Linked DNA regions of Homo sapiens. The protein of the gene in region 2 interacts with the protein of the main gene of each other region in a biochemical or structural test. Each region holds a gene or a part of one and is shown on either strand. Other genes may lie near its edges.

Region 1 (17,476 bases), on a different chromosome or scaffold from region 2:
AAAAGAAAGAAAAAGCAAAGTCACTTTACCTCTCCGTGCCAAGGTTTCCTCAGCTGTTAAACAGCACCTACACCTCAAGGGCTTGCTGTGGACAAATGGAAGTCCAGACCTTAAGACAGTGCCAGCACCCAGATAGGCCTTCATCAGCAATGCACTAGACCAACGAGGCAATGAAAATAATGCACCAAAACAGGTGCCACATGCTCCAGATGTGGGGATTCAGAGAAGGCTGGGGAGGCAGATGGGTTCCATGATGGCCGACAGGTCTCTGGTGTATGTCCCCTCCTCACAGAGGAGGAGACCACAGCCAGCGCCAGTGGCTCTGTCTGCTCCGAACATCTCCAGGGCTCCCTGTCTAGGCCCCAAAACACAGCACTTGGCTATAGGGCTTCCTCCAAATGTAGGGAGATATCCAGGCTTCCCCCCCTTTGGAATCTCTCCCCCACCAGTGGCCCACTCTTGGCCTTTCAGGCCTCTAGAACTGCCTTTGGATTGGACTACCCTTCCAGGTCAGCAGAGAAGCCCAATGTCCCCATCTCACTAAAACCTGGCAGGCACTTCCACAGAAACTCCGGGGTGCACACAGGGCTCCAAATGCCACCTCTTCTTTACCCCAAATCCTACAGCTCTGTGGGCTGCCCGGGTCTAATGGAAACCACACAGAGCACACCCTCCACTAAGTGCTGGGTAGTGAGAGTGTGCAGCTCTCCCTCTGCAAACCCCAGTTTCCTTGTCTGAGCTCTCTTCCAGCTCCCATGCTGGAGTCCCATGAGTAAGGGCTGTGCTCCCTTCTCCACTACCAGGTGAACCAAAGGTCACAGTGGCCTGTGATACCCCCTCCCCACCCTGCAGCTTCTCGGAGGTGCTGGCTGCCCCTGGGAGCCCCGTTTTGGGAGGCCCCACTTACTGCTCCTGAGAGGCCGGGGCCCAGCTCCATACAGAGGCCTCATGTGGCCAGCCAAGTCCCTCTCCTCTCTGGCCACCATTGTTCCCAAGGTAGAAATAACCTCAGGCCAGCTCAGTAAGGGCACTGTGATCAGACTCTTCCCTGAAGGGACTGCCAGGTGCACAGCAGACTCACATGTGGACTCATTTTTATTACTTGGCTGTGGGGAAGAACAAAACTGCTTCATGGCTACACTATTTTGCAAAGGAAAGAAAAAGAGGACTGCTTCCCCTGGAGCAGAGCCACAACAGCTTCTGTTCTTGTATTCATCATCTGTCCCTGCGTAGGGTGAGAAGGGCAGGAGAACATCTGGACAAGGCCAGGCCAGTGGTTTAGACAAGAGCGTCACAGCACTGAGGTGGCAGCAGTGACAAGTGGGGCGGGCAGCTCCCAGCAGAGAAGGACAGCCCTCAAGGTCACCGGGATGTGGCTCTGCTGAGCTGTGCCTTGCAGCCAGCTGCCTACAAGGAGAGACAGGTGGGGCAGAGATGGGGCTGACCACAGGCCCCTTGAAACTCCCTGGTCCCAGCCAGGGCTCAGGGCCAGGGGCAGATGGGGAGGGCAGGGGAAGCTGCCAGGCCAGAGAGGAGGAGCTGCCCAGCCTGACTGAGGAGTCACACTTCCTACCCCGCCCCACACCCCAAGACGCTGCTGCTCAAGCAACCCCAAATAAAAACCACCCCATAACTAAGGGCCGTGGAGCCTCGGCATACCAACGACTGGCTTCTGAGTGCAGCCACACCCTTCCTCTGCAGCCAGAGTAGACCTCCCCAGCAGTGCCACAGGCCTCCCATGCCAGCTCTGGGGCCGAGCAGGAGCCAAGGCCAGGGGCTCAAGTGACCACAGCTGTTTCCCGAGGGGCAGAGTCACACCCAGAAGCCAACAGAGAGAAGGCTGTGGGGTCACGCACCATCTGCCCACCAACTGTCTGCCCAGGCTGTCTGTGGGCTACGGGATAGATGGAAGCCCTCAAAGACCATCCCAGCCTTAGGCTAATGGGATGCATGTCCCCTCAGGTGCCTCCCAGTGCCCCCAAACCCACCCACCTAAGGAGGTCTCAGAACACCATGACCAGCCAGGCAGAAGGCTCTCATCTCAGACCTACATCTTTCACAGCCTCAGCTCTCCGAGCTCCCTTGCCAAGTGGCACAGTCTAAGCAGGGGCTGAACGGAGCCTCTTGCAGGCCACAATTCATGGTCACAACAGTTTTAGTCTTTGTGATGAAAAAAGACAAACTGATCCCAACCCAAGCTGAACCCACAGCCTTTGCTTTCCCAAGAGGCCAGCTTCTAACCATTGATCCAACAGGCCCAGGATGACGATCCTGTCTGCCACACTCCAGGCCTTACCGCAGGGACCATTTCACCCTTATCAGGATGAGGGAGAAGGTGGACAGGGGCTCCATATAACACAGTTGTGCTCTCTCCTCCTCTCCTAAAACACACAAAGACCAGCATTCCAGGGGGCAAAGACCAGGTCTCCCCAACCAAAATGGCCTTGTGGCAGATGCCCTGTCTTCTTACTCCAAAACCTTTGCTGCTGCTTCCTTCCTTCCCTCTTCTGATATATCCAGGTCCATTCCCTGGGGGTGTGATCCACACCAATCGCATAAAGACCAAAAAGGTCCAAATGACCCATCTGACCCCACAGGGAACAAGGAAAACTAACTAACCACCACATCCCATCCCTGTCTTGGGAGTTAGGGAGGCAAACACAGGACACCCACTGGGGAGTGCTAAGAAGGACGTTGGGCCAGGCGTGGTGGCTCATGCCTGTAATCCCAGCACTTTGGGAGGCCAAGACAGGTGGATCACCTGAGGTCAGGAGTTTGAGAACAGCCTGGCCAACATGGCAAAACCCAGTCTCTACTAAAAATACAAAAATTAGCTGGGTGTGGTGGCACATGCCTGTAATCCCAGCTACTCAGGGGACTGAGGCAGGAGAATCGCTTGAACCTGGGAGGGAGAGATTGCAAGTGAGCCCAGATTCTGCCACTGCACTCCAACTTGGGCAACAGAGTGAGACACTGTCTCAAAAAAGAAAAAAAAAAGGATGTTGAAGATAAAAACCAGAAAATAAATCGCAGAGAAGCATCCAGGATTTCCAGACCAACAGGAACATGACGATCCATGGACAGTTCTACTGAGGGTGGGGAGATCATTAGTTTCCTTGTGTACTACCATTACATTTTGTTTTGAGAATATCCTCTTCAATTATTTGGAAGCCTCTGGTGAAATTCCTCATTTCAAAGACTGCCCCACTCACACAAGACCTTCGGAGGCTGCTGAAGCACCTACAACCCCAGCCACCACCATCACACAAAATGGGGCCCCAGAGTCACCACCACGCTAATATTTTGAGAGCTTCTATGTATCCAGAACTACATTAAGGCTTTTACAGATGGTGTCTTATCTAATCTGTACAACTCTATGATTATTATCATGACCTTTTTCAAAGTGAGGAAGTGGGATAAGTAACCTGTCTGCTGGTAAGTCACAGAACGGGGAGTGAAATCCCAGTCTCCAGGTTTTTAAGCCCTGGGCCATCCTTCCTTCCCAACAGGGCAGGGGCAGCTCCAGGCAGGGCTGCCAGGGAGGAGAGCTGCAGAGCTGCGGGCTTATCTGAGCCTGGTTTCAGGACTGCAGAGGCCTCTCAAGCCCAGCCCTATTTCTTGGGCCTCTTGCAGCAAATAGAATACAGAGAGCTGCAAAGGGCCAGCTCATTTTGTTGGGAACTCTCGTACTCTTCTGTGTACTCCGTCACCCATGGTCCTAAGGCTTTCCTAGGCTCTAAGTTCTAGACTGTCTCCCCCATCCCATAAGAAGCTCTTCCAGACATTGTTACTAAAATCTCCCTTCACCATCACTGCTCTGCACTGACCACCTACCATGTACAGGGACTGTACTAGGTGCTTAAGCTGCATTTTCATTTCATCCCTCACATCAACCATATGAAGGTATAAATTATCTCCATTTTACAGACGTGAAAACTGAGGCACCAAGAGTTTATATGACTTGCCACAGGTGGCAGTTTTGGGACTGGGATCTGTCCAGTGCCACTCTGTAGCCCCTTCCTAACCATAAGGGTACCTTCCCCAGTCAGGTCCTCTCTTGGCAAAGGGCCACCACCTGCCCTACCTGAGACCACCACAGCCAACTCCTGGAGTTAAAGAATGGATACTTTTCATTTCCACCATTATCCAAAGCTGAGGAGGGTACACCCTGGTCTTCTCTGCCTTGCCCTCTCCCTACCAGGCAGCGTTCAGACTCAGTCTTGGTAGCCCACACCAGGGTGCTCCAGGAAATACCACCAGGAATGACCACTACAGCCAGAGGTGGGGACCACAGCGGGGGTGACAGCCCTCCCCCTCTGTCAGTGGGCATGCTGTTAGGTCCAGTAAACTAGAGCACCAGGCCAACTTCACAGACTTTCCTCTGCCCATCCTAAGTGACCCTCCCCACTCCTGTTCCCCCCCCGGTTCTATAAATAAACCAGGTTGTTGCATCAGAGAAAACAGCCAGGTGGGTGTGGAAAGATCCTGGTGGAAAAGATGATTTCTATAAAATAAATTAAGGTTCCCATTCAGATCAAGGGGTGGTAAGTCAAATTCTCCAAGACAGGCTGTTCTTGGCTGAAAATGGGTCCACCTGGACCTACAAGCTTGGCCAGCTCAGCTAAGGAAGATCCAGAGGCCAAGAGGAAAGCAAGGGCAGGAACTGGAAAAAACAATCAAAGAAGCTGCTCCCTGCAGGCCTGGAGCCTTTTTTTGGTCTGCCTCCTCCTGTTCCCCCAGCACCCCCTGAACAGATGTGTCATCTAACAGTCTGGTCAGAGTAGCTGATTGGTGGAGGGTGAAGGACTGGGGGAAGGGGTGGAATGATTTGGGGGATAGGCACCTCTTCTGAAAAAGAATGGGCTAAGAGATCCAGGAGAGAGCTTTTCGCCCCATATACCCACCCCCTTGGGCTCCAGGAACCAGGAAGGAGGGAGAGGACAGAAAGGAGGAAAAAAACAAGGTCCAAGCTATATACCACATGATCCCACACCCTGCCACCAAACAGCAAGTCATGAAGGAAGGCGGGGAGCAGGCCAGGGGATGGGGAAATGGAGTCAGGTCACAGCCATGCCTGGAACCTGCACTAACGCCCTCCCCATCCCAGACCACAGAGAGCCAGCCAGGAAAGTCATTCCACACCCATGTTTCAGAAAACATTCAAGGTCAGATCCTTTTTACCTAAATCCTGCTTTCATTTGGGTTTGCACCAGGCTCATCCCCCTCCTCCAGCAAGCCTTCCTGGATTTATTCACTCAGTGGATGCCATTCCACTGGGGCAAACCTTTCCGGCACCTCTCCTGACCTAAGGCACAGTCCTGCCCCAATCCCCTTACCCTCCTACCCAGATCACTCCCAAGTTAACCACTTGAGTGATCCACAGCAGGCTGTCAGCCCCGGGGACTGGCTTCCAGCTCCTGCCCAAGCCCAAAACAGGAAATGGGGCTCCAAGGCTGAAGCCTTGATCTTAACACAGGCAAGGTTAAATGCTGCCAAAATAAATGATTTAAAAAAACCCTGGCCCACTGAGGTGGAAGTGACCGGGAGATAATCTCCTGCTGTTCATTAACCATGCCGCTGCCTCTACCTCAGGCAGGGCAGGGCAGGCAGGCAGGCCACTGGAAGGCTGACTCAAGTGTTTCCTTCCTTAACTTAGAAGCTCCTCCTATCCTCAGACCAGGGACACAGGACACAGAGGGACAGGATGGGGGTGGGGGGGTGACATCTCTAGATAGTGGAGGGCATCTTGAGAGCAAGAGGCAGATGCCCCCTGCAGCCAGCTTCTACGTTTAGCGGGGTAATCAACATTCAACCTCGCCCTGGAGGAAGACACCTGGCTTTCCTTCCCCCGTAGGGCAAGGCTGCGCCTCTCCACTCCCCTGCCGGACAGGCGCCCGCAGTTCCCCTCCCCTTTGAGGAAAGGGAGGCAGGCCCGGAGGTTCTAAGAACGGCCCCAAGATTTCCCTTCTTGAGGTTTCCATAGCCCCAAAGCCTCTGAATCTCATTCCTAACTTTACTTGACAATCTACTCCTAACGTTCGCCACCACTTAAACCTCCCCCAGGCCTCCCAGGGACCACCAGTGGCTGAGCCCCACACAGCGCACGTTTGGGAAGCTTGAAGACGACCCCGAAATGCGAAGAACCAACGTTTCTGTCGGTTTACGCCCTTAAGCACGAGGCAAGGGCTCACTGGCCCGGCTGAAGTTCGGGGTCCTGATCCCCCACCAGCCCCGCCCTGTTAGGCCTTTAGCCGTTTCTGTGCCCCCGCGCCCCCTACTCACTGCGTGTGCTGGGCGCGGCCTGCGCCGAAGACCTCGTCCAGCGCCACCGTGGCCTGGCCCAGGAACTTGTCGACGCCGATGAGCGAGCGGTGCATGGTGGTGAGCACCAGCTCGCAGGCGGCGGCGGAGCTCGCGGCCCAGGGCGCCGGGCCCGCGTCGGCCTCCTGCGCCCGCAGCAGGCCATCCAGGGCCCCCGGCGGCAGCTCGAAGGAGCACTCCTCACGCCACTCGGGGCAGCCGTGCGTCTTCTCCACCACCGACGTACTGTACTTCTCGCGGCCCACCTGGATCACCGTGTACGCGTCGCTGGTGCTGCCCGCTCCCGAGCTCTTGCCCCGCAGCCCGCGGGCCCGCAGCACCGTCACCTGGACGTGCGTGGGCAGCCAGCGGGAAGGCCCCGCCGCCGGCTCCGCGCCCCGCACCAGGGCCATGGCGGAGAAGCGGGGGGCGAGGTCTGGCCGAGCCGGTGCAGACCCCAGGACCTGGTGACAAACCCGGCCGCGGCAGAAGGCGGTCAGGAACCAACTCTGAGCGCCGCCGCAGCTGCGGGCTGGGCTGGGCCGGGCCGACCGGCCGCCGCCTCCCCGCCTCACCGGGCCGCTGGCCGCGGGCCGCGCCGCGACGTCAGCGCCCCGCCCCCTGCCCCGCCCCGCGCCCGCCGCCCCAACCGGCGAGGCGGTGCGACAGGGATGCGGGCACGCAGCTCGCGCCCCGGCAGCCGCAGACCAGCCCGGAGCGGGAAGGGGCGGTGCGCGGCCTCTGCAGAGGGTGGGCGGAGTTCCCGCGGTGGCCCCGCCCCTGGCTGGGGGCGCCCGAAGCAACCCGGCCTCGCTTGTGGGGAGCCCTACACCCGCGGCCAGGTACGAAAAACCCGCTCTGCGCCTCCAGGCCAATCCCACGTCTTCCTTCTAAAAGTCCCTGCTCCGGAAAGCCCTCTCCGTAAAAGGGTCCCGGCCCGCAGTTCCTGGGATGGCCAGCCTCTTGGCGCGGACTTGGGGTGATGGGGACCCCCGCCGCTCCCCTGACCCCGGGCCGCGCTCTCCCCTCCTCCAGTCCGCCCCTGCGGGGGAAAATGCCGGAGTGAAACTGGAGCGATTGCCGCCCCGCCACGTGACGGTCCCGCATCGGCGACCTGGAAGCGGGTGAGCTGCCGCCGCCTCCAATCTCTCCCGGCGCAGGGGGCCGGGATGCGGCCATGCGGCGGCGCGGGAGGCCCGAGAGCGGGGCTCACCCTCCTCAGACTCTGCGGCGGAGAGCCGAGTGATGAATAAATGAGTAACCACATCAATATTTAAGTGTTCACTCGGAGCCTTGGGGCCAGTGTGTCACGGGTTGGGGGAAATTACAGGCCCTGGTGGGGGGTTAAATAACTACTTCCACCCATTATTAAGTGCCTACTGTGTGCCAGGGCCTAAGTATTAACGTATACTTGGTTTATTATTGATAATAACGATGTTTAGTAATTATAGATGCTGAATTTCAGCCAACTCTGGTCAGTGCGCTTTTATATGCATTACCTCATTTTATCCTCAGAGCAACTCTGTGGGGTGAGTATGGCTTTTATCCCTATTTTCCAGAAGATAAAATGTCAGCTCAGATGGGGGAGGGTTGTGAATCCACTAGATGCCCCCAGAGCGTTTTTTTTTTTTTTAACTTTCAGAGCCTGTACTTTTAAAATAATAATTTAAAAATAATACACACAGCTTTTTTAAAAAAATCAAATAGGACAGAATGGCTTGCAATGAAAAGCAAGAACTCCCTCTCCATCCTTCAATCCAGGGATGCTGCTTAAAGCCACTGGTGTTTTCAGGTCTGATGGTTACCTCCACATCACTACATTAAGATGCTCACATAGCTACATCTGCATTTATCAGGACTGGCCACTGTCTGTTGCCTTCCTCCTATGATAGATAATGATTTAGCTGGCTCACACCCACTTCCATCCCTCAATCTTGTGTAGTTATGCTATTATTTTTAGTTCCTCTATAGCAGGGGTCCCCAACCCTTGGGCCACAGACTGGTAACCCTCCATGTCCTGTTAGGAACTGGGCTGCACAGTAGGAGGTGAGTGGTGGTAGGGGCTAGCTGGTGAAACTTCATCTGTATTTACAGCCGCTTCCTATCGCATTACCGCCTGAGCTCCACCTCCTGTCAGATCAGCTGTGGCATTAAATTCTCCTAGGAGCACAAACCCTATTGTGAACTGTGCATGCGAGGGATCTAGGTTGCATACTCCTTATGAGAATCTAATGCCTGATGATCTGTCACTGTCTCCCATCCCCAGATGGGACCATCTGGTTGCAGGAAAACAAGGTCAGGGCTCCCACTGATTCTACATTATGGTGAGTCATATAATTGCTTCATTATATATTACAATGTAATGATAAGAGAAATAAAGTGCACAGTAAATGTAATGCACTTGAATCATCCTGAAACCATCCCTGCCACCCTCAGTCTGTGGAAACTTACATTTTGGTCCCTGGTGTCAAAAAGGTGGGGAACCAGTGCTCTATAGGATACCCAACAGGAGAAACATGTATTTCTTCTTAGGGAGACTCCACAGTACCCCTCAACTGTCCACCTTCCAGGCCATGTCCTCTACTGGGAATATGAACCTAGGAAACCAGTAGAGTAGGCAGAGGAGACCCATGATAGCACACCCAGCACAGGCCCAGTCCTCACAGCCTCCCACCTTAACTCTTCCATCAGAAGACTGGAGTGGGGAAGTCCTAGGCACCAGCCCCATGGTCCAGCAACCCTGACGATAGCACCTAGCTTTAGAGACAGCCAGATCTGCCTACAGATATTGGCCATCTGCCTCTTAGTAGCTATGAAACCTGAAGTTTAAGCCAACTCTCTAACCTCTCTTGGCCTTATTTCTCCATTTGGATAATGGGATAATGATTCTTACCTCAAGCCAGGCGGAGTGGCTCACACCTGTAATCCCAGCACTTTAGGAGGCCCAGGCTGGTGGATCACTTGAAGCCAGGAGTTCAAGACCAGCCTGGGCAACATGGTGAAACCCCACCTCTACTACAAAGACAAAAAATTCCCCTGGCGTGGTGGTGGGCACCTGTAGTCCCAGCTACTTGGGAGGCTGAGGCACAAGGATCACTTGAACCTGGGAGGCAGAGGTTGCAGTGAGCCAAGATTGTGCTGCTACACTCCAGCCTGGGCGACAGAATGAGACTTTGTCTCAAAAAAATAAAAAATGGGGCCAGGCCTGGTGGCTCATGCCTGTAATCCCAGCACTTTGGGAGGCCGAGGCGGATGGATCACTTGAGGTCAGGAGTTCCAGACCTGCCTGACCAACATAGTGAAACCCCGTCTCTTCTGAAACTATGAAAATTAGCAGGGCATGGTGGGGCACACCTGTAATCCCAGCTACTCAGGAGGCTGAGGCACAAGAATCACTTGAACCTGGGAGACAGAGGTTGCAGTTAGCCAACATCGCACCACTGCACTCCAGCCTGTGCAACAGAGTGAGACTCTCTCTCAAAAAAAGAAAAAATGGAAATAAATCATAACGCAACCATCCATAAATAAACACTGTTAATAATTTGTTGTGTTTCTTTCTAGTCTTTATACTGTATGTGTTTGTTTTATATACATTATGGTTTTTGAGACATCTAAAGTATAATTATTAAATCTGTGGGCTTTGGAGTCCTGGTTCTACCATTACTTTATATATATTATCACTCTTGGCTATAAGTCTGTATACTAAAGAAAAAGTATATACATATAATACTTACACACACACACACACACACACACATAGTCATGTTTAACCCTGAAGATAACCATTTAAAGCAAGTGCTACCCTTGGTTTCACTGATGAGGAAACAGAAGCAGGAAGAGCTTGGGTGATTTTCCCCAAGTCTCCAACCGGAAAATTGTAGAGACTGAGTGGCTCTACTGGCTGTGGTACTCTGCTCTCACACCAGCTTGTTGGTCAGCCAAGCACTAGATCCATTTAAAGTCAATAAAGAAGGAAGTGTTCTCATACCCATTTTACAGACGAAGATTGAGGCAACCAAGGTTACAAGAGTCAGGATGAACCTCCCACTTTAAGAGTGAATTCTTCAAGGACTTTGCAAGTGACGATATCATCACTAAACTTCAACTAACATAAATGTGTCACTCCTTCAGCGGGTCTGTTTCATCTGTTTGCCTGTTCTCCAACGTTACTGCTCCTACCTCCTCCCTCCCTCCTCCTCCGCCAAGGAGGAGCAAAGCACCAGGAAAGGGGAAAAGGTGGAGAGCACTCAGATGGCTCCTCTGCCTCACCTGCCCTCTGGCTCTCTTTCCTCCTGCCTTGGCCCTCACAGATTGGCAAGCTCAAGCTTCCTGCTGGCTCTGGACTGTGGCTGGCTATAGGAGGGGAACGAAACCAGCCAGGGCTCCCACCCCACGTTGCCTGGCCCTAGAAGGAAAAGCCAGGTCTGCTAGCTGTCTGTGGTTGAGAAAAGAGCAGAAACACCAGATACTGAGGTCTTGGCCATCTAAAGGTGTGTTTCCTCCTCTATAAGATGAGATCCCCCCCACTCCCTGCAGCAGCCTGCATAAGAGTTAGACAAGAAGACCCCAAAAGCATCAGTTTCCTCTGCCTCCCCAGGGCTGGGTGTCCTCACTGCCTTCCTGGGCCTCTCTAGTCCATTGGAGACAGTTCTTGCTTGAAAAGCATCCACCTATGTGTAGCTTCCACTCATTGCCCCCTCTTCAGTACCACTAAGCCCATTTGCTTTTCCATGTAGACACTTCACATGTATTTGTCCTGCTCTTCCAGCTACATTTCCCTCTGTTCTTCACCTCACCTTCCTGCAGCTATTTTCCAGGCCCTCTTTATAGCAGAACCACATGCCCAGGTCTAAGCCCTGGTGCCACCACTTACTAACTGTATAAGCATGGGCAAATTACTGAACCCTACTGAGTCTGTTTCCACCTCTGTAAAATGGGCCTGCTAATAAGAAATTACCTCATAGGGTTAGTATGAGAGCTATCTCAATACACCCTAAGCAGTAATGAGCATGAATTATCATCTTAGAACTCTTTGCTGAAGGCAAAAGCTTCTGCCTCCTTGTTGTTTCATTTGCATTTCTTTGATTGCCAGAGAGATTGAACTTCTTTTCAGTTATTAGTCATTTGTATTTCCTTCTTTAATGAATTGTCTATTTTCTGAATTGCCTATTTTCTATGCTTGTTTTTCTTTGAAGCCTTAATTTCTTATTATTTATACAAATGCTTTATATGTTAAGAATAGTAACATGGCCAGGCACAGTGACTCATGCCTGTAATCCCAGCACTTTAAGGGGCTGAGGAGGCAGGATTGCTTGAGTCCAGGAGTTTGAGATCAGCCTGGCCAACATGGTGAAACCCTATCTCTAAAAAAAAAAATACAAAAATTAGCTGGGTGTGGTGGCACATGCCTACTGAGGTGGGAGGATCACCTGAGCTTGGGAAGTCGAGGTTGCAACAAACTGTGATCATGTCACTGCACCTCAGCCTGGGCATCAGAATGAGGCCCTGTCTCAAAAGAAAAAGAAAAAGAAGGCCGGGCACGGTGGCTTATGCCTGTAATCCCAGCACATTGGGAGGCCGTAGGTGGGCGGATCACAAGGTCAGGAGATCGAGACCATCCTGGCTAATACGGTGAAACCCTGTCTCTACTAAAAATACGAAAAAATTAGCCGGGCGCGGTGGCGGGCGCCTGTAGTCCCAGCTACTCAGGAGGCTGAGGCAGGAGAATGGTGTGAACCCGGAAGGCGGAGCTTGCAGTGAGCCAAGATCGTGCCACTGCACTCCAGCCTGGGAGACAGCGAGACTCCATCTCAAAAAAAAAAAAAAAAAGAAAAAGAATAGTAACACTTTGTTGTTCATATTTACTGCAGGTTTTCTTTTTTTAATTTAATTTAATTTTTTTTTTGAGACAGAGCCTTGCTCTGACACCCAGACTGGAGTGCAGTGGCACAATCTCAGCTCACTGCAACCTTCACCTCTCGGGTTCAAGCGATTCTCCTGCCTCAACCTCCCCAGTAGCTAGGACTATAGTGTGCACCACCACATCCGGCTGATTTTTGTATTTTTAGTAGAAACAGGGTTTTGCCATGTTGGTTAGGCTGGTCTCAAACTCCTGACCTCAGGTGATCCACCCCCCTCAGACTACCAAAGTGTTGGGATTACAGGTTTTAGCCACTGCTCCCAGCCTGGATATGTTTTCGATATAAGACATTAGGTAGGCTGAGTGCAATGGCTTATGCCTGTAACCCTAGCACTTTGGGAGGCCGAGGCAAGAAGATTACTTGTGAGCCCAGGAGTTCTAGACCAGCCTGGACAACGTAGCAAGACCCTGTCTCTTTTTAAAAATTATTTTTAAATTAGCTAGGTGTGCTAATGCACGCCTGTAGTCCTGACCACTGAGGGGGTTGGAGTAGGTCTGAGGCAGGAGGATTGCTTGAGCCCGGGACGTCCTGGCTTCAGTGAGCCATTATCACACCACTACACTCCAGCCTGAGTGACAGAGCTCAGGCCCTGTCTAAATAAATAAATAAAATTAGATAATCAAATCTTTGAATTCTTTCCATTGTTTTAAGCTTGAGTTCTTCCAAACTTACAGGTCCAACAATATTCATTTGGATTTTTTCAAGTTTTTAAGTTGTTTGGATTTTTGTTTGTTCTTTTATTCTCTTTAAATCCTGCTAGCAACCATTTTGATGAATGATTTCAGGTAAATATCTAACCTGCTTTCCCCCAACAGCTATCCAAGTTTCCCAATATTTATTGCAAAGCCCTATCCCTTAGCCATTGGGTTTATCATATAAGTTTATATATATATTTGTAGTGAAGGGGTGGCCTGCCCCTCCACACCTGTGGGTATATCTCATCAGGTGGGACGAGAGACTGAGAAAAGAAATAAGACACAAAGTATAGAGAAAGAAAAGCGGGCCCAGGGGACTGGCGCTCAGCATACCAAGGACCTGCACCGGCACCAGTCTCTGAGTTCCCTCCGTATTTATTGATTATTATTTTCATTATCTCAGCAAGAGGAATGTGGTAGGAGAACAGGGTGATAATAGAGAGAAGGTCAGAAAAAAAACATGTGAGCTAAAGAATCTATGTCATAATTAAGTTCAAGGGGAGGTACTATGCCTGGATGTGCACGTAGGCCAGATTTATGTTTCTCTCCGCCCAAACATCTCAGTGGAGTAAAGAATAACAAAGCAGCATTGCTGCCAACATGTCTCGCCTCCCGCCATAGGGTGGTTTTTCTCCTATCTCAGAACTGAACAAATGTACAATCGGGCTTTACACCGAGACATTCAGTTCCCAGGGGCAGGCAGGAGACAGTGGCCTTCCTCTATCTCAACTGCAAGAGGCTTTCCTCTTTTACTAATCCACCTCAGCAGAGACCCTTTACGGGTGTCGGGCTGGGGGACGGTCAGGTCTTTCTCACCCACGAGGCCATATTTCAGACTATCACATGGAGAGAAACCTTAGACAATACCCAGCTTTCCAGGGCAGAGGTCCCTGCGGCTTTCCGCAATGCATTGTGCCCGTGGTTTATCGAGACTAGAGAATGGCGATGAATTTTACCAAGCATACTGCTTGTAAACATTTTGTTAACAAGGCACATCCTGCAGAGCCCTAAATCCCTTAAACCTGGATTCCATACAACACATGTTTTTGTGAGCTCAAGGTTGGGGCAAAGTGGCTGGGGCAAAGTTACAGATTAACAGCATCTCAGAGCAAAACAATTGTTCAGGGTACAAGTCAAAATGGGATTTCTTATATCTTTGCTAGGGCAATTTGGCAAAAAGAATAAATAAAATCATCTAGATTGGAAAGGAAAAGTAAAGCAATCTCTATTTGTAGACTACATGATCTTGTAAATAGAAAATCCTAAGGAGTCCACTAAAATCTGTTAGGGTGAATAAACGAGTTCAGCAAGGTTATTAGGGTACAAGATCAACACATTCAAATCAATTGTATTTCTATACACTAGCAATGAACAATTGAAAATAAAATTAAGGAAACAATTCCATTTATTTATTTATTTATTTATTTATTTATTTTTATTTATTTTTTGAGACAGAGTCTTGCACTGTCATCCAGGCTGGAGTGCAGTGGCGCTATCTCAGCTCACTGCAAGCTCCACCTCCCAGGTTCATGCCATTCTCCTGCCTCGGCCTCCCGAGTAGCTGGGACTACAGGTGCCCGCCACCACGCCTGGCTAATTTTTTGTATTTTTAGTAGAGGCGGGGTTTCACCATGTTAGCCAGGATGGTCTTGATCTCCTGACCTCGTGATCCGCCCGCCTCAGCCTCCCAATAAGTGCTGGGATTATAGGCGTGAGCCACTGCGCCTGGCCGAAACAATTCCATTTATAATAACTTCAAAAAATAAAATACTTAGAAATGAATTCAACAAAAGAAGTCTAGGCCAGGTGCAGTGGTTCCTGCCTGTAATCCTAGCACTTTGGGAGGCTGAGGCAGGCAGATCACCTGAGGTCAGGAGTTCGAGACCAGTCTGGCCAACATGGCAAAACCCTGTCTCTACAAAAAATACAAAAATAAGCTGGGCGTGGCAGTGTACACTTATAGTCCCAGCTACTTGGGAGGCTGAGGCACGAGAATAGCTTGAACGTGGGAGGTGGAGGTTGATCGTGCCACTGCACTCCAGCCTGGGCAACAGAGTGAGACTCTGTCCTCCGTCTCAGGAAAAAAAAAAAAGAAAGAAATCTAAGGAAACTACAAAACATTGTTGAAAGAAATTAGTAACCTAAATACATAGAAAGGTATTTCATGTTCATGGAACTGAAGACTTATTGTTAAGATGGCAATACTCGCCAGATTCAACATATCCCCTCTCAAAAGTCCAACTGCTGTTTTTGCAAAAATTGGAAAGCTGATCCTGAAAAGCACATGGAAACGCTTGAGACCCAAAATAGCCAAATCAATCTTGAAAAAGAACAACAAAGGGCACTCACACTTTTTGATTTCAAAACTTACTACAAATAAAGACAGTGTGGTACTGGTATAAAGATAGACATATAGACCAGTGGAATAAAATAGAGTCCAGAGATAAATCCTTACATTTATGACCAATTGATTTTCAACAGAGGTACCTAGACCATTTAATGGGGAAGGTATTGTTTTTTCAACAAATGGCCTGGGACAGCTGATATTCACATGCAAAAGAATTAAGCAGGACCCCTTTCTTACACTGCACACAAAAATTAACTCAAAATACATTATAGACCCAAATGTAAGAGTTAAAACTATAAAGCTCCTAGAAGAAAACATAGGAATAAATCTTCATGACCTTGTATGAGGCAAAACCTTCTTAGATACACCAAAGTACAAGCAACTGAAAAAAAATAATAAAGGCTGGGTGCAGTGGCTCACACCTGTAATCCCAGCACTTTGGGAGGCTGAGGTGGGTGGATCACCTGAGGTCAGGAGTTCAAGACCAGCCTGGCCAACATGGTGAAACCCCATCTATACTAAAAATACAAAAATTAGCTGAGTGTGGTGGTGTGCGCCTCTAGTCCCAGCTACTCGGGAGGCAGAGGCAGGAGAATTGCTTGAACCTGGGAGGCAACAGTTATAGTGAGCCAAGATCATGCCATTGCACTCCAGCGTGAGCAACAGAGTGAGACTCCTTAAAATAAATGAAATAAAATAAAATAAAATGGATTCCGTCTAAATTTAAAAATTTTAGGCTTCAGAGAACACCATCGAAAAAAGTGAAAAGACACTCCACAGGCTGAAAGTATTTACAAATCATATATCTCATAAGGAACTAGTATCTAGATGTATAAAGAACTTATAATTCAACAATAAAAAGACAGGCTGGGCACAGTGGCTCACACCTGTAGTCCCAATGCTTTGGGAGGCCAAGGCAAGAGGATTGCTTGAGTCCAGGAATTTGAGACTAGCCTGGGCATAACAACACCTCATCTCTACAAAAAAATTTTTTTTCTTAACTAGCCAGGCATGGTGGCACTCACCTGTAGTCCTAGCTACTTGGGAGACTGAGGCAGGAGGATCCCTTGAGCCCTAGGAATTTGAGGCTGCAGTAGGCTATGAACTTGCCACTGCACTCCAGCCTGGCCAACAGAGTGAGGCCTTTTCTCTACCAAAACAAAAGAAAAACAATAAAAAAACAACCCAGTTTAAAAATGGGTGCGTGATTTGAATACATAATTCTCTACAAAGATATACAAATGGCCAACATGCATGTGAAAAGACACCAAAACCACTAGCCATTAGAGAAATGTAAATCAAAATCACAATAAGATATCACTTCACACCAACTAGAATGGATATAATAAAAAGACAGATGACAAGTGTTTTCCAGATGTGGAGACACTAGAAACTAATACACTGCTGGTAGGAATGTAAAACAGTGCAGCCACTTTGGAAAACAGTTTGACAGATCCTCAATTGTTAAACATGGAGTAACCATATGACCCAGCAATTTCACACTCCTAGATATGCATCCAAGAGAAATGAAAACGTGTGTCCATACAAAAAGTTGAACATGAATATTCATCCCCAGTTTCCTACCCAAAATCTACAATCTCCAACTGCATTTTTTGCATCTCAGAGGAAGAGTTGTTCCTGAGTGCTTAACTTTCCTTCCTCTGCTTTGAGGCAGACCAGGGTTCTATCCTCCCCTTCATTTCTGTACCTCTCATCCACTGTTTCCTCCTCTCATCACATAAATATGCTCATGTCCTTCCCGATAAAGCCAGAAAACCACAACACCCTTTCAATATTGCCGGTACCACGTCCTTCTTTCTGAGACGTTTCCTAAATTTGATTGACTTCTTCTGCCTTTACCCGCTCACTGCCCCATTCATACCCAATTCCACAGCATCCTGGCTCTCTATCCTTCTACCCTGTTGTTCTTGCATTCGTAATTGCAAAATCCCAGGCCCTCCTTCAGTCCTTATCTTAACCTCCCCTTTGCATGTGGTAGTTAACCATTTCCTTCCCCCAAACTCCCTCAAACCTATTCTCTGCCTCTGGGACCCCACTCTTTCATGCCTTTGCTCTGCCTCTCCCTTATACCTTCTGGGTCTCCTTCAGGGGGTTTCTCTTCCTTTCCCAAATTTTTTTCCCCCAAAGCAGGGGGTTACCCAGGTTGGAGTGCAGTGGCGCGATTATGGCTCACTGCAGTCTCAACCTCCAGG
Region 2 (14,998 bases):
GAATGAACAGGGGAGGTAAACCTAACAAAATCTCTCTCAGACACATTAGTCCTGAGGGTCATTTTGGCTTTTAAAGAATACAACTGAACCTTGAACAGCAGAGATTTAAACTGTGCTGGTCCAATTATACGCAGACTGTCTTGCTCCTCTGCCACCTGAGACAGCAAAACCAACCCCTCTTCTTCCTCCTCCTCCTCTTCCTCCTCCTCAGCCCAAACGTGAAGACTATGATGAGGATGAAGAGCCCTATGATGCTCTACTTCCACTTAAAGAACACTAAATATATTTTCTCTTCCTTACGATTTTCTTAATATTTTCTTTTCTCTAGCTTTATTCTAAGAATACAGTATAAAACATATTCCATACAACATACAACATATGTACTAACTGACTGTTTATATTATTTATAAGACTTCCAGTCAGTAGTAGGGTAGTGGCTCACGCCTATAATCCCAGCACTTTGGGAGGTTGAGGCAGAAGTATCACTTGAGCCCAGGAGTTTGAGCCCAGCCTGGGAAAAACAGCGAGAACCAGTCTCTACCAAAAAAATTAAAAAATTAGCAGGGCATGGTGACATGCACCTATAGTCCCAGCTACTCAGGAGGCTGAGGTGGGAGGATCGCCTGAGCCCAGGAGGTTGAGGCTGCAGTAAGCCATGATTGTGCCACTGCAATCCAGCCTGGGCAACAGAGCAAGATCCTGTCTCAAAAAAAAAAAACAAAAACAGGCTATTAGTAAAGTTTTTGGGGAGTAAAAAGTTATATGTAGAGTTTCAACTGCACAAGGGGTTGGCATCCCAACCCTTGGGTAGTTCAAGGGTCAACTGTATTTCCTCCCCAAATATACCTACCCACTAATTACATATATAATGTGAATCTACAACATAAAAGCATTTGGGAGGATAAAAAAACCACAGGAACTATTCGTCATGAGTTTTACCCAGTAGATAGAGCAAAAAATACATTAGAAGGCAGTAAAAATGGCATCCGAGTCCTATTTGTTGTTTAAAAATTAGCAACTACATCTTCCTGTTTTTGCGTAAAATCAAGTGAGGCTGTGAGTAAGAGGTCCAACCACAATATTGATACTTCTCCATAAAAAATGATGAGCTGCCTACTTGAAAGTTATACCCTCCACCATAAATATGCCTATTTTCAATGGCTGTGTGCCAGTGGAGCAAACAGGATATGAAATCACAGCAGTCATCAAGTGACAGAACCAAAGGTTGATCCAACAAGTTTCTGTGGCTTCCCTTGTGCATATGTCTACAAAATGGCACTCCCCAAGCCTTTCTGGTGAATCAGTGTGAAGGTTTGTATGACAAATTGGTAGAAATTTTAGCCCACAGAATTGTGGACCACGTAGCTCAGGGGTCCTGTGCTCCCAACAGTGTCCAAAGGCATTTAATTTAAATATAAGACAATGCCAGAAAGCATTTTCCTTCATCTGTTTCCCTATCCACTAAGTTAATTTTCTTTCATTCAAAGTAGTGCCTTTCCAACCCTCAAATTAAATAGATACTTGAGCAATGGAAATGATGCCTGAATAATAACTTTTGATGAAGATTCAAGTCTTAGTACAGCTGTTGTAATATAAACTGAGGCTGTGAGAATTAGAGTGTTTGAGCATTTCTTAAACAGGCATGAAGTACACTAAGAATGTAACAGCCACCTGGGAGCTTCCTAATTCTCAGAGGAAAATGAGACATAAGAAGACCAGAGCAGATCCCCAGCTTCTTTGGCCGTAAGAGAAACTCTATGGTTTCAAAGGAACTGTGGTTAATAACCTAACTTGCGGCACCAAATACCAATTCAGTTGCATGTTTGGCCAGAAAAGCTTTATTTCAATGGATATATAATAGTTTATAATAAGGAAGCATCATAATTTATTTAAACACTTTCCTATTATTATTATTACTTTGAGACAGAGTCTCGCTCTGTTGCCCAGGCTGGAGTGCAATGGCACGATCTCGGCTCACTGCAAACTCTGCCTCCTGGGTTCAAGCAATTCTCCTGCCTCAGCCTCCCAAGTAGCTGGGATTACAGGCGCCCGCCACCATGCCCAGCTAATTTTTGTATTTTTAGAAGAGACAGGGTTTCACCATGTTGGCCAGGCTGGTCTCGAACTCCTGATCTCAGGTAATCCACCCACGTTGGCCTCCCAAAGTGCTGGGATTACAGGCATGAGCCACTACATCCAACCTCACTTTCCTATTATTCAAAATTTAGATAATTGGCATTTCTTCAAGAAACAACCTGATGCATAAATCTTTGATCTCTCTCTCTCGATGATAGACTCACAGAATTGAAATTCCTGGGTCAAAGACTATAAAATCTTTTAAACTAAGTATGTTAACAGCTATTACTAACATTCTTTAACTTTTCGGTATTTTTTATTGTCTACAATGAGCATGTGTTCACTAAAAAAATGAGTAAGTTCACATTATAAAAGTCATAGAAATTAAAAACAAAAGCTTTACTAAGGTAAAAGTTCTTAAAAACAAAGCTTTATAATAAATACTTGAAAGTAGCTTTTACCATTTTAGAAAAAAACATTTTTAAAAAAGAAAGACAAATACTTCATTTCAACTGCCAGCTGGCATACTTTGAAAGTCAGCATCATAAAGTAGTATGTTCTGTCTCACCACAGCAGGACATTAATTCCTGGCCTGCTTTTGAGGAGCAGAAGTACAAACAGTGGCACAGGTACATTAGTTGGAATATTCCATGCAGAATGAATTAAAGTAGCAAAAGCTTAAATCTGTGGTTGTTTCTGCTGCCAACTGTTATTCACATAAGTAAAAATCTCTTCTATAACCCATGTATGATAATTTTTTAATATTTATAAAATTTTACTACATTTAGATGTCCTTCTCAAAAGTAGAGAAACTTCCCATAGAGCTCTTTTTATAGCAATACACATCTATCCTGGTTATAGAGCTTAGAACATTAGTGTTCCCAGTTCACTCCAATACATTTTCTCTTAAATTTCACTTTTAACATTCCTTAAGACGTACAGAATGTATTCTATGGGTCCAATTAACGTTACCGTGGACAGAAAATCTTAACTTAGCACCTCTTGCCTTACAGTAAGGAAGCTTTTCAACTTCAACAAAAATTCTTGTTTAACACCTTGTAGTTAATTCATTTTACCTACACAACAATTGTGACATAACATTACTGACCTTCAACATCATTCCAGCTTGCTCATAAGCTCTGCAAAGAGAATATAATTTCTCTGATGAGATCTTAACGAAATAAGGGGTAGAAGAAACTTTCTGGTGAGGAACTACTGGTAAGGAAAGTGACTTCAATTACAATGGGCTCATGCACAACATATCACTTCAGGCTTATATTACCACACAATATAATTTTTTATTCTTTTTTTGTGGGGAATAATGGCTTAGAACATCAGACATTTGAGTTAAAGAGATTTTATTTTGCAGATGCAAAATTAAGTAAGGCTCAGTAAGGTTAAATTAATTTCCATCTGACAAACCTAAACCTAAGTTTTTTTGTTTGTTTGTTTGTTTTTGGGATGGAGCCTTGCTGTGTCGCCCAGGCTGGAGAGCAGAGGCACGATCTCAGCTCACTGCAACCTCCATCTCCCAGGTTCAAGCAAGTCTCCTGCCTCAGCCTCCCCAACAGCTGAGATTACAGGCACGTGCCACCACATCCAGTTAATTTTTGTATTTTTAGTAGAGACGAGGTTTTTCACCAAGTTGGCCAGGCTGGTCTTGAACTCCTGACCTCAAGTGATCCGCCTGCCTCGGCCAACAAATAACTACTCTCCACAAGGCAAGAGAAAGCTTCCTGCTTCATCTCCACAGGCACCATTAACTATCAAACAGAGGAAAAAAGAGATCCTAACTTATTTTTTTCCCATAGGCTACTGAACAAAATGCTCCTAATAAAATATTATGGCAAATTTAATTTAAACTCTTTACATCTTACAGTTAGGAGTAAGTCTTGGTTTTTAAGGTTTAGGTAAAAACTGAAGCAAAGAGAAATGATTATTATTTAAATCAATACAAAATTTATAATTTGGGAAAAAATTACCAACCTACAGAAAAACAGCAACATTTAAAACATAATTTGCAAATACATGAAAACATGAAGAATACTTACTTGGCAGCATGAAAAAGACTGAATGGAAGTAACGAAGTCAAAGTTAAGGAAAAAAGAAAAAAATCAATAGTTTCTATAGATCAACTATTTAAAGACAGTTAACTAAATCACTGACCCAGTTGGTTCCAAAAGACAAATCCTACAAACAGGTAAAAAAGAAGTAATTCAATACCTGTCAATATAGTTTAAAACTACATAATTCCCAAAACCACTAACAAAACACTGCACAGATTTTAAACTATTTCTATTACGCAATAATCTGAAGTTTTACTGAAGTACAAAGTTATTATGACTACAGTTTGCAAATAAGAGAAACATTTTTTATTGATAAGTTTGCAAACACCTCAAGAAAATGTACTGTTTTAAACTACTTATAATTTTTATTTCAAATACCTAAGGAAAACTGTATTTAAAAAAATTGATACAGTAGTTCACGTGTTTTCAATACCTGTGCTACTTCTTCATTCTTCAGCACATGTCTACAGATTTACTTTACTTCATCCCAAGTAAAACCATCATCAAGTAAAATCACAAACAATAGAAAGTAAGTATTGTAGCTCTGCGAACCAGTGTGGACCTTATAATCAAACTTCATTATAAACGCTCCTTCATAGTTTAAAAATACAGAATTTTTCTAATCATTTTCTAATTTAAAAACATTTTACTTCACAGGTAGTAAAGTAAATTTACAGCAAGAGAAAACAGCTTGTCAAAATCATCTAATTGTTTAATTTCTTTTTAAAAGTTGAAAAAGATACGCCCTATTATTTTCATGGGCAACAGCTTCCCTCAGGCAGGCATCTTTTGCTTGCTCAAACTGTTTGGCATTTTTAAAAGCAACAGCTGAAATAGAAAAAAAAATTGACTATTTCCATCATTAAAAACCTCAAATGAATCATTACTGAAATCTGCATTTTATATGAAGTATTATAAACATACTTACTTCAAATACTTAGGAAGTATCCTAAAACTATAAAATATTACTTTTTTCTAAAGCAATTTCCTTACAACTTTTCCAATTATTGGTAACTTACGAGTATTTTTAAAACTTTTTCTTTTTTAATTGTTGACTACTGGCAACAAATCAGTGTTTCTTCCACTCAAAATCAAGAAGTCTTTCTAACACCAACACTCCCCAATACTCCCCAGTAACCGGCAGATTCTTCAGTCACAAAAGACAGCACCTTACTTCACCAGTTTTACCTTTAAACGGTATTTTGGGTATAGGTCATTCGATTAGGTAGAAACTGAGGGCCAATAAGCACATTTAACAGTTTTTTATAATAAACCTTCCTTTTGGCACAATCTTTAAATGTCTAACAATGCATTTTTTTAAAAAAACAATCTTTTATACTGTTTACTATCTATGAAAAAGATGTCTCACTGTTCAAACAGCTAAAGCATACTGAAAGCTGTTTTAAAAGTGTAATCATCAAAACAAAACAGGAGTGCTTATAACATATGATCTTACAAATTTTGGAAAACTTATCAAGGGTTGCTTACAAAGAAGCAAAAAGCATAATGCTTTAAGAAAAGTGCTATTTGTTAAAAACACTCTTAAAATTCTCTTTAATAAAATGTGAAAACCAAATACTGAAGCTATTCCCCTCCCTGCTTTTCCATATGTTGCTTTTTAAAAAATTTATTCTGATTAAATAGGTTTTCCATAAGCCCTTAAAGAAAATAAACAAAGGATGCTTCAGGGGGAAAATTTCATCTAAAACATTTATTTTTGAATGTAATTCATGATCTCAGAGGGGCAGAAAACAAATCTGTGTTAAATTTCCCTCACAGAGGAAACTTGCAAAATGTTGTTCCCTTCTGCTACAGAAGCCTCCTTGCATGAGTAGTCCACAAAATTCATACAAAGTTTGAACTTTTAATAATTTTCAAGTATAAGATAAACAATTTGCATGATGCAAAAAAACAGAATTTACTCAGATTTAAATAAAAGTACTGAAGACTCATTTGCTGTTTAACCAAAAGCACTTGCCCCAGATGATCTCTATGCTAGGCTAACAAATGTGATAAGGGCTATCGCTGAAATACAACTGAAAATGTGTTCAAGGTACTTCAAAATTTTGTTATATTTATACTGCAAATTATCACAGGTATGCTTAAAGCTATCATTCTGTAATTCAGAATGCTACATTTTTAGTAAATTCCCTTTCTGTTGCATATTTTAGATTGTTTATATCTTATATAAAGATAAATTGATTAAAATATGTATATAGCTTAACACTTCATGAACACTGAACAGATACACTCAAAGTGAGGTTCATAAAAGACATAAAATACCAAGCAAACATATGATTTGCGTATCAGGTTAAGATGAGGCTAAGTTAACAAAAAATTTAACAAACTCCTAATTCAATAGAAAGTATAATAGAGAAATATGGCAAAACTCATGGATATGGTATTCAAATAACTGGAGTTAAAGAATATATAAGCAACGCTAAAAACCCACTACTGTGTATCACCAACCCCGCCCCATCCCTGCTGTCATAGACAGCAGGTACCAGGAACTCTGACTCAGCTCTCAACACATCTGAAAATAACAAGTGGAAAAAAACTCAAGGGCTTGCACAGTTGTTTTGTTTGTTTTTTAACTATTAAAGCCTTATAGAAAGCATATGAGTAAGTATTATGGTGAAATGAAGTTATCAGACTATTTTAAGATTACATACTGGAGCAACTGGACTATAGTCAAAAATACCTGCTTTTCCATATTCAGAAGCGGCACTGTCATAATCTGGCTTCCATTTTAAAAAACCAGTTTTCAGGCTAGAATGAAAAAAACACAGTTAACAGGAGTTACCAACCACATTTATAAGTCAGATCTCTGCTTGTAATGACCTTCTAGGTCTTTAAAAAAAAAAAAAAAAAGGAGAAACCATCAGGCACAAACTCTGTGTCACCCGCCTCCATCCAAACTTAGGCCTAACAAACACAACCTCACCTCTTTCACTCCCACTGTCACAGGTACGTGGTTTTCCTCCTAGAGGTTCTCAATTCATGGTCCCTGGACCAGCACCATCAGCACTAACTGGGAACTTACTAAAATCGTAAATTGTTGACCCCATCCCAAGCCTACAGCACCTCTGAGGTTTAACGAGCTCAAAGGTGCATTAAAGCTTTAGAACCTCTGAAGCACAGTATCGACAGCAGAGGGATTCATGAAACTGACGCACAGACAAGAGTCTAGAGACATAAATGGAGGCATCATAAGCATATGTCAAGAGCATAGATGAGATCAGATCCCCTAGTGAGACTGCAGAGAGAGAACAGAAAGACTAAGGAATACAATCATTCAGTGAAACAACAGAGGAAGTAGGCAAAAAAAAAAAAAAAAAAAAAAAAAAAAAGTGAAAACTCGCCACCCATAAACAAGAAGGATAATCAGAAAGGGAAGGATATTACAAAAGCCAAGAGAAACTGCTTTCTAGGATCACTACTGGCTTCTTGGATGCCAAACCAAAGGACAATCAATTTTGAATCCTTAACTTACTTGCCTTTTCCTCAATATTTATTTTCTTATTTTAAAATAATTTCAGACTTAGTTTAAACTAATTCAGTAACTGTCAAATTTGGGTGTGCATAGAAATTGCCCAAACCATCGTAAATTCTAAATGTCATTCAATTAGTGAAGGCCTGCTTGCACAGAACACTGCTTGCTTCAAATGACTCAGGGGAGTATCTTAACTGAAAGATGAGGCATCTGTATGAGCACTCAGAAGTACAGCCTTCATTATGTGACAGCCATGGGAACTGCCACAAAGTCATAGCTTCTTTTTTTTTCTTGAGATAGGGTCTCGCTCTGTCACCCAGGCTGGAGTGCAGTGGTATTATCTCGGCTCACTGCAACTTCCGCCTCCCAGGTTCAAGTGACTCTCGTGCCTCAGCCTCCTCAGTAGCCGGGATTACAGGCTTGTGCCACCACACTCAGCTAATTTTTGTATTTTTAGTAGAGAAGAGGTTTCGCCATGTTGGCCAGGTGGTCTCGAACTCCTGGCCTCAAGTGATCCGCCCACCTTGGCCTCCCAAAGAGCTAGAATTACCGGCATGAGCCACTGTACCCAGCCAGCTACAGTAACATTTTTTGCCAATTAAATTTATTCAACATATTTAGCATCTAAAACTTGTTTGTGTATATAGTGTTACAAGATTCAAATTAAAATAAGCAATTTTTCAAGCTTACCAAGAATTTCACTGTTCAGAAAAATAATATCCTTAAATTGTGGTGTGTCTACTCAAATCTACAAAATTGAGGAAATATGCAATATGCAAAATGCTAACCCTCTGTTCCTATCCCATAACAAACATTACATTCTGTATATTAACATAATTTTTTTAATCCCACTAAAAACAAGATACAATCACTCCGTCACCTAATGTGCTATACACGGAAAGACCCAGAGAGTTTAAAACTGGGCAAACCATCCCAAGTCACATGAACACCACTAATAAGGAAGAAAGATATACAGCTAATTTGGGTTTAGCAGCCATACCTGTTAGTCCTTTTGACCTTTTTCTCCAAAGAATCAATAAGGAAACTGACCAATTTCCACAGAAAAAAAGAAAACAGCAAAATTACCATCTGTGTGGGGATCAATTTACAAAATTACTCAGCAATATTGAACTACGTCATCATTAGAAAATGGAGAAAAATCAAATATCTCCTAAGCTCCTGGCCCATTTTTCCTACCACCCACTGAGTAACTCTGTCTAGCAGCATTTCAAACTAACACTTCAAGCCTGAACTCCACACCTCCCCGCCCCACCTCCCTGCCCCAGACCTACCCACCAATCACATCCATTAATCTATATCCCCTATCTTGGCTGAAGGCCTCTCCCACTCGTCTCCCAAGTTAGAAACCTAGGAGTTAACTCTTCATCTCTACATGCAGGCACCTCATTAAAGCATGTCAACCTTACTGACAAACATCACCCAGTCCTACCCCTGTACTGTTATTTGAATTCAGGCCATCACCACCTCTCCCCTGAAGTCGACAACCCACTAACATGTCTGGCAGTACCTTCATGGGAGAGTCACCTTTCCTCCTCTTCCATTCCCCACATCCTGAGCATATTACCTTTTCCTTGCTTCCTATCTCTACCATACCACACTGAATACTTCTATTCTAGCACTGAACATCCTATTTTTAGTCCTCTGTTAACTTGTCTGCCCACCTGTGAATTCTAAGCTCTTGAAGAAGGGACCACTTTTGGTTACTCCAGTATCCTCTGTGGCTGGTACAGGTACACAGAGACAACTTTGTAAATGTTCGTTTACTGAATATGTCAAAGTCCATTCTCCACACTGCTGCCACATTTCTTTTTCTTTTCCTTTTTATTTATTTATTTTTTTGATACAGAGTCTTGCTCTGTCTCCCAGGCTGGAATGCAGTGGCGCGATCTCCGCTCACTGCAACCTCCGCCTCTAGGGCTCAAGGGATTCTCCTGCCTCAGCCTCCTGAGCAATTGGGATTACAGGTGCGCGCCACCACAGCCGGCTAATTTTTGTATTTTTAGTAGAGACAGGGTTTCACCATGTTGGCCAGGCTGGTCTCGAACTCCTGACCTCAAGTGATCCACCCGCCTCAGCCTCCCAAAGTGCTGGGATTACAGGCATGAGCGACAGGGCCCAGCCTGCTGCCACATTTCTTTCACCAAAAGCAAATCTAACCGAGTCCACTGGTTGGATGCCTACAATAGCCATGTGAGAAGCTGTCCCTTCACAGTCTGGCCCCAACTCTTTTTCACTCCAGCTCGTCCCCTGGCACTGTGACTACACTACATTCACTGTTCCCAGAGCACATTTTCAGGCCCGCGTATAATACATACTACAGGTTGCGCACAGAATCTCTTTCACAAGATTTTCCCTCCGTCTAAAACATTCCGTATTTTTCAAGCTCTGCTCACAAATCATCTCCTCCTCAAATTTTCTCAGGCAGAATAAACTTCTCCCTCTGGGTTACCTATGCACAGTTAATACAGCTTTTTTGTGGTCCCTATTCCACACACTATTCTTATTACAAATTTTGCGTTTGCTCCCACTAGAAAGCAGAATGTTGTGGGAACCTCCTGCACCAGGAGAGCCCCAGCACCTTACACGCTGACTGCCTCGAGTCATGTGATAGAGCTTGAGTTTTTCCACTGTTTGAAAACTGGCTCTGCGATCTTTCACCTGTGCAGTTGGGGGCAAGTCGTTATGAGGCTTCCCTGAGTCTCATTTCCTCTTACGAAAAATTAGAATCTCTATTTGGAAAGTTATTGTGAAGATCTCAGCTTATGAAATTATGTATGTGAAGCACCCACCACAGAGCACAATGCTGACTTTTTCTTTTCTTTTTTTTTTTTTTTTTTGAGACGGAGTCTCGCTCTGTGGCCCAGGCTGGAGTGCAGTGGCGCGATCTCGGCTCACTGCAAGCTCTGCCTTCCGGGTTCAGGCCATTCTCCTGCCTCAGGCTCCCGAGTAGCTGGGACTACAGGCGCCCGCCACCACGCCCGGCTAATTTTTTGTATTTTTAGTAGAGACGGTTTTCACCGTGTTAGCCAGGATGGTCTGGATCTTCTGACCTTGTGATCCGCCCGCCTCGGCCTCCCAAAGTGCTGGGATTGCAGACGTGAGCCACCGCGCCCGGCCCACAATGCTGACTTTCTATTAACTGTAACTGCCAGATAAAAATGCACTGGAGTAATGAAACGGGGGGAAGAGGCTGCCAAAAGGATGAATTAAGGATTATCAGTTCAGTCCCACAAACATTTGCAGGGTGCCTACTACGTACTGTACCAGAGGTGGCAGGACATACACATCAAAGGACGAACGAAGCACAGTCCCTGCCCACAGGGACAGTAAAATGCCAGATGACAAAGGTTCACCGAGGAGTTTTTGGGGTAAACCTATGGTCCCCTCCACACAGGGGGCTCTTCTAGGGCGGTGGTTCTCAACAGAGCGATGTTGTTCCCCAGATGACATTTTGGGTTGCCACAAATGGGGAAGAGATGCGACCGGCACCCAGCAGGTAGAGGCCAAGGATGCTGCTAACGAGCCTCCGATGCACAGACAGCCCCCACCACAATCTTCAGGAGCAGAGCGCCCAAGTAGAGAAGCCCTCGCCCCGCAGCACTGCGCCGAGTCCCCGCCCACACCGGCTCTGGGGAGCGGACTTCCGGCGGGGTGGACCCACGGCGCTTCCCGAGGCGCCGCAGAGCTGACCCCGACCCCGGGAGTGTGACCCAGAGGACACCGAGCCCCGGCAGCCCTGCGGGCACCAGCGCGCCGAGGCCCCTCAGCCCTGAGCCCTCCCTCCCGCCCCCCCCGGGTGCTAAGGCCGCGCCAGTGAGAGACGGACCCGGCGTCTACACACAGGCCCCCGGAAGGTTCTCACTCACTATTTCTCTGCTTTGGCGAGGTGTTCCAGCCCCTCGTTTATCTTCTGAGCCGCCATCTCCACAGTCAGGTCTCTGACGTGGAGAGAGGGTGACCCTGCCTCTTCCTCCGGCGCCAAGAATCCGCCCAAATAGGCGTGGGAACGCCGAGGAGGAAGCTGGTGCAGCGCGACAGTCGAGCGGCTACGGAGGGCCGGAGGGCCCAAGCCGCTGCGACGAAGCGGGGCTGGGAGCCTGCCGGTGCGCCCCGCAAAGAGACATTGCGCAGGCGCAGCGCGTCAAGGCTGGCCCCACCTAGGGCATCTAGCGCAGGCGCGGTGAGATACTGATGGGGCGTATTCTTTCATTCAATATTTGCAAAGCACCTAATATGTGTCAGGCACTATTTTAGATGCGGGAAGATCAGCAGACAAAAACTCCCGCCCTCTTGAAGTCTTGCTTTTTCATTAATGTGAAACTGCTGTGGATCCTGTTTGTAGGGTTAATTGGCTTTATAATTTATTACATCTGAAGTTTCTCTGTATGACAGATAGAATAGTATTCTTCTATCCATTCTGCCTTTTGGGTATTAATTGTATGTCAGTCAAGAAACGAAACAGACTTGTAAACCCTGATTACTGTCAAATAATCCGCGCCCAACCCAAATAATCGCTCTAATATTTCAAGCCGTGATAAGTGCTCTAAATGGGAAGTTGAGGGATCTAAAGTCGCGTACAGTGGTCTGGTAAAAATAGTAACCAGTAATACAGTTGGCTTCATTCATAATTCATGGTGATTTCAATATCCACATGGATGATTCCTGCAATGACTATACAGCCTCTCAGCTTCCAACCTCCTGTGATCTTTCCCACACTAGCGCAGCCACACATTCCTGGGATCACACCCTTGACCTTACTCATAACTGTGTACCCTCCGTAGTGTCAGTTTCAAACAGCTCACTTTACTTCCCCTTTCCATTCCAGCTCATACCTCCTAGTGCTAGTAATTACTTAACCTTCACCAGATTCCTCACCTTTCCCTATCCCTCTGCTCTTACACGTCCTTCTTTTCCCAGCATAAATTCATGTCCCATCATTTTAGTGCGTATACTCTCAACGGCCTTGGCTCCCTCTCCCTCCTTTCTCCAAGCCAGGAAAAACCCCAGCTCTCCACCTACTCTGGAACTGCTCTTGAGCAAGTGAATTTGACTGGAAAAAAACAAACGAGGATGCTAACATTACTCATTTTAATGATCATAAACATTAAGCCGACCTTTGGTGCTGCTGAGCAACTCTCCTATGTTTCCATGGTCAAATCACTCACCCACTCACTTGGAGGGCTGTTCACACCTTCCTTCTCAAAACTCCTACACAATCTCTGCTTGCCTGCCAACTCTCACTTATTGTTGAATATGAAATAACTATTCGAAGAGTTCTTCCCTTTGGCCTCACCACACAATCGATCGATCTTCCTGCATCTATTTGCCAATCAATATTTTGCATTTTTTCTAGTGCCAACAGGTGAACTGGCCTTGGATTTTTTTCTCTATCCTCACTTTCTTATTTAGTACCCACACACAAGACCCCTCTTCATTTGGTTGTCTAGCCTGGGCTTCCTTTATAGGAAGGCAGCAGAATTTCAAGAGAGTGAAAGTGGAAACTTCAGGCTTCGTAAGGCCTGGACTCCCACTGCACATTACTTCTGCCACATTTTATTGATGAAAACATGTCATAAGGCAAGTTCAGATTCAAGAGGTAGGAAAATAGAGGAGTGTAAAATACTTTGGCCATGACTTCCAATTCACCACAACTCTGGGATGACTGATTAAATATAAAAGGACTGTTACCAGTGGAAAGCCTTATGTTTTCAAGTGAGTTTAGATTTATTAACCACCCAATACCATCACCCTCTAAAACCATTGAAAGTGCCCAGAAAGTTTTCTAAGCCTATAACCTCCTCCACATTCTCCCTTATTTATTCATTCATTATTGAATTATTGTTTACTGAATGCCCACTCTGCACAAGACATTAAGCCTACACACCTAGGACCCAATTGTTGAGCAAGAGATATAATGCCTGCCCTCATTGCATTCATGATCTATGAGAGGATACAATATTTAACTTAATTTTACTTTGGCATCAACAAAGAAAGAATGGGAAAAAAACCCCACGATAGTGATATAGCAGTTATTAAGAAATACTTTTTAGGCAGATAGTAAGGGTAAATGTTCTCAGTGGAAATTTTCCTGTTTTAAGAAACAACCCCTGAACCATCTCTTTTCTAACAGAAAAGGCAGCTTGAAGAGCCAGGCCCGCAAGCTTTGATATGCAAATGTCAGTCCTTAGAAACTGAGTTCACTCAACATGGTGATTCCGCCATCTCTTCCTTGTCATCAGGTGTACCAAGTGTCATGGCCACCTCCAGATAACACCATGTGTTCAGAACATCACGGTGACCTGTATTTGCATATTAAAGGGCTAAGGTGGGAGGGCCAGGTTTTTCGAGAGCTATGTAAATGACACACCTGGTCAAACCAATCCCCTGGGCCCTATGCAAACCAGACACCACCTCCTCCAGGATCCCAATATAAGCAACCACTTTTCCACTGCACACTGGGTTTTCTCTTTGTTCAAATCCTCCCTACCTCTGTCTCTGTATGGGGGAGGTGTTTTCTTCTTCCTTCCTTCTTTCTTGCCTATTAAACTTTTCACTCCTTAAAACCACTCCACGTGTCCGTGTTGTTAATCCTATCAGCACGAGACCAACAACCCTGGTGTTCCTCCATTCGTTGGAGCTATATCAATAGCCATGGGCATTCAAGGGTTCTATGTTTCAAAGGACCCTTGACCAGGGAAGCCGTGGTAAGTATGTGCTAACATGCATTCATAGTAAAGGGGAGAAGAAGAGAGAGAATGGGCACAGTAAAGGTGTAACACAAATGCCCCCACTTTCTTCCCCTCCCCTTCTCTTCCTGCAATAACATTGAGGTGGGAGTTGAGCAAGGGGAATTTAAACTGAGAAGTCAGCTTAGAAGAACTGAGAATGGAAAGCATGGACCAAATGATGATAGACTAAGACGTGTAGTTTCCCAAGCTAGAATCGATAGTGTGACCCCAGGCCTTGTTGACCCATAAACGTAATTCTTGTTATCACAGCAGCTACCACCAGAACCTCAGCAAAAGTTGTCTTTGTGACTTCAACTTACCTCTTGCCTCCTCTCCTAAGGCTCTTTAGACGCTCATGTCCTCCCTCACCTACCCCGTCAACATACAGACTTGCTGGCTGCTGGCCCAAGTGATTCCATCTGAGCCAATCCTCTCCTCTAGTTCTAGAAACTCTTTTTCTTTATCCTGCCTCAATAAAAATGTGCATTCCTGAGTGATCTACTTGTTTTGGATGTGACTAAAATGATTCACATCAAAGTGTGAATGAGGCTTAAAATAGAGCTTGCAAACCCCATTCCTTCTCTCATGGTGGGCTTAAGTCTCTGAGAGTTCTT

What was found.
Region 1: the proteins of NAPG (region 2) and RAB11FIP5 form a complex in vitro, tested with the Homo sapiens proteins (one study listed by BioGRID).

The regions. Positions count from the first base shown.
Region 1 is NC_000002.12:73,106,065-73,123,540, forward strand, and holds the start of RAB11FIP5 (rab11 family-interacting protein 5), read right to left. Parts: upstream 6,885-17,476; 5' UTR 6,714-6,884; coding exon 6,283-6,713; intron 1-6,282. UniProt on the Homo sapiens protein: Rab effector involved in protein trafficking from apical recycling endosomes to the apical plasma membrane. Involved in insulin granule exocytosis. May regulate V-ATPase intracellular transport in response to extracellular acidosis.
Region 2 is NC_000018.10:10,522,683-10,537,680, reverse strand, and holds the start of NAPG (gamma-soluble NSF attachment protein), read right to left. Parts: upstream 11,655-14,998; 5' UTR 11,579-11,654; coding exon 11,523-11,578; intron 11,235-11,522; exon of another isoform or gene 11,107-11,234; coding exon of another isoform or gene 10,916-11,106; intron 8,681-10,915; coding exon of another isoform or gene 8,636-8,680; intron 6,912-8,635; coding exon 6,844-6,911; intron 4,971-6,843; coding exon 4,886-4,970; intron 4,160-4,885; exon of another isoform or gene 4,146-4,159; coding exon 4,128-4,145; intron 3,216-4,127; coding exon 3,185-3,215; intron 1-3,184. UniProt on the Homo sapiens protein: Required for vesicular transport between the endoplasmic reticulum and the Golgi apparatus.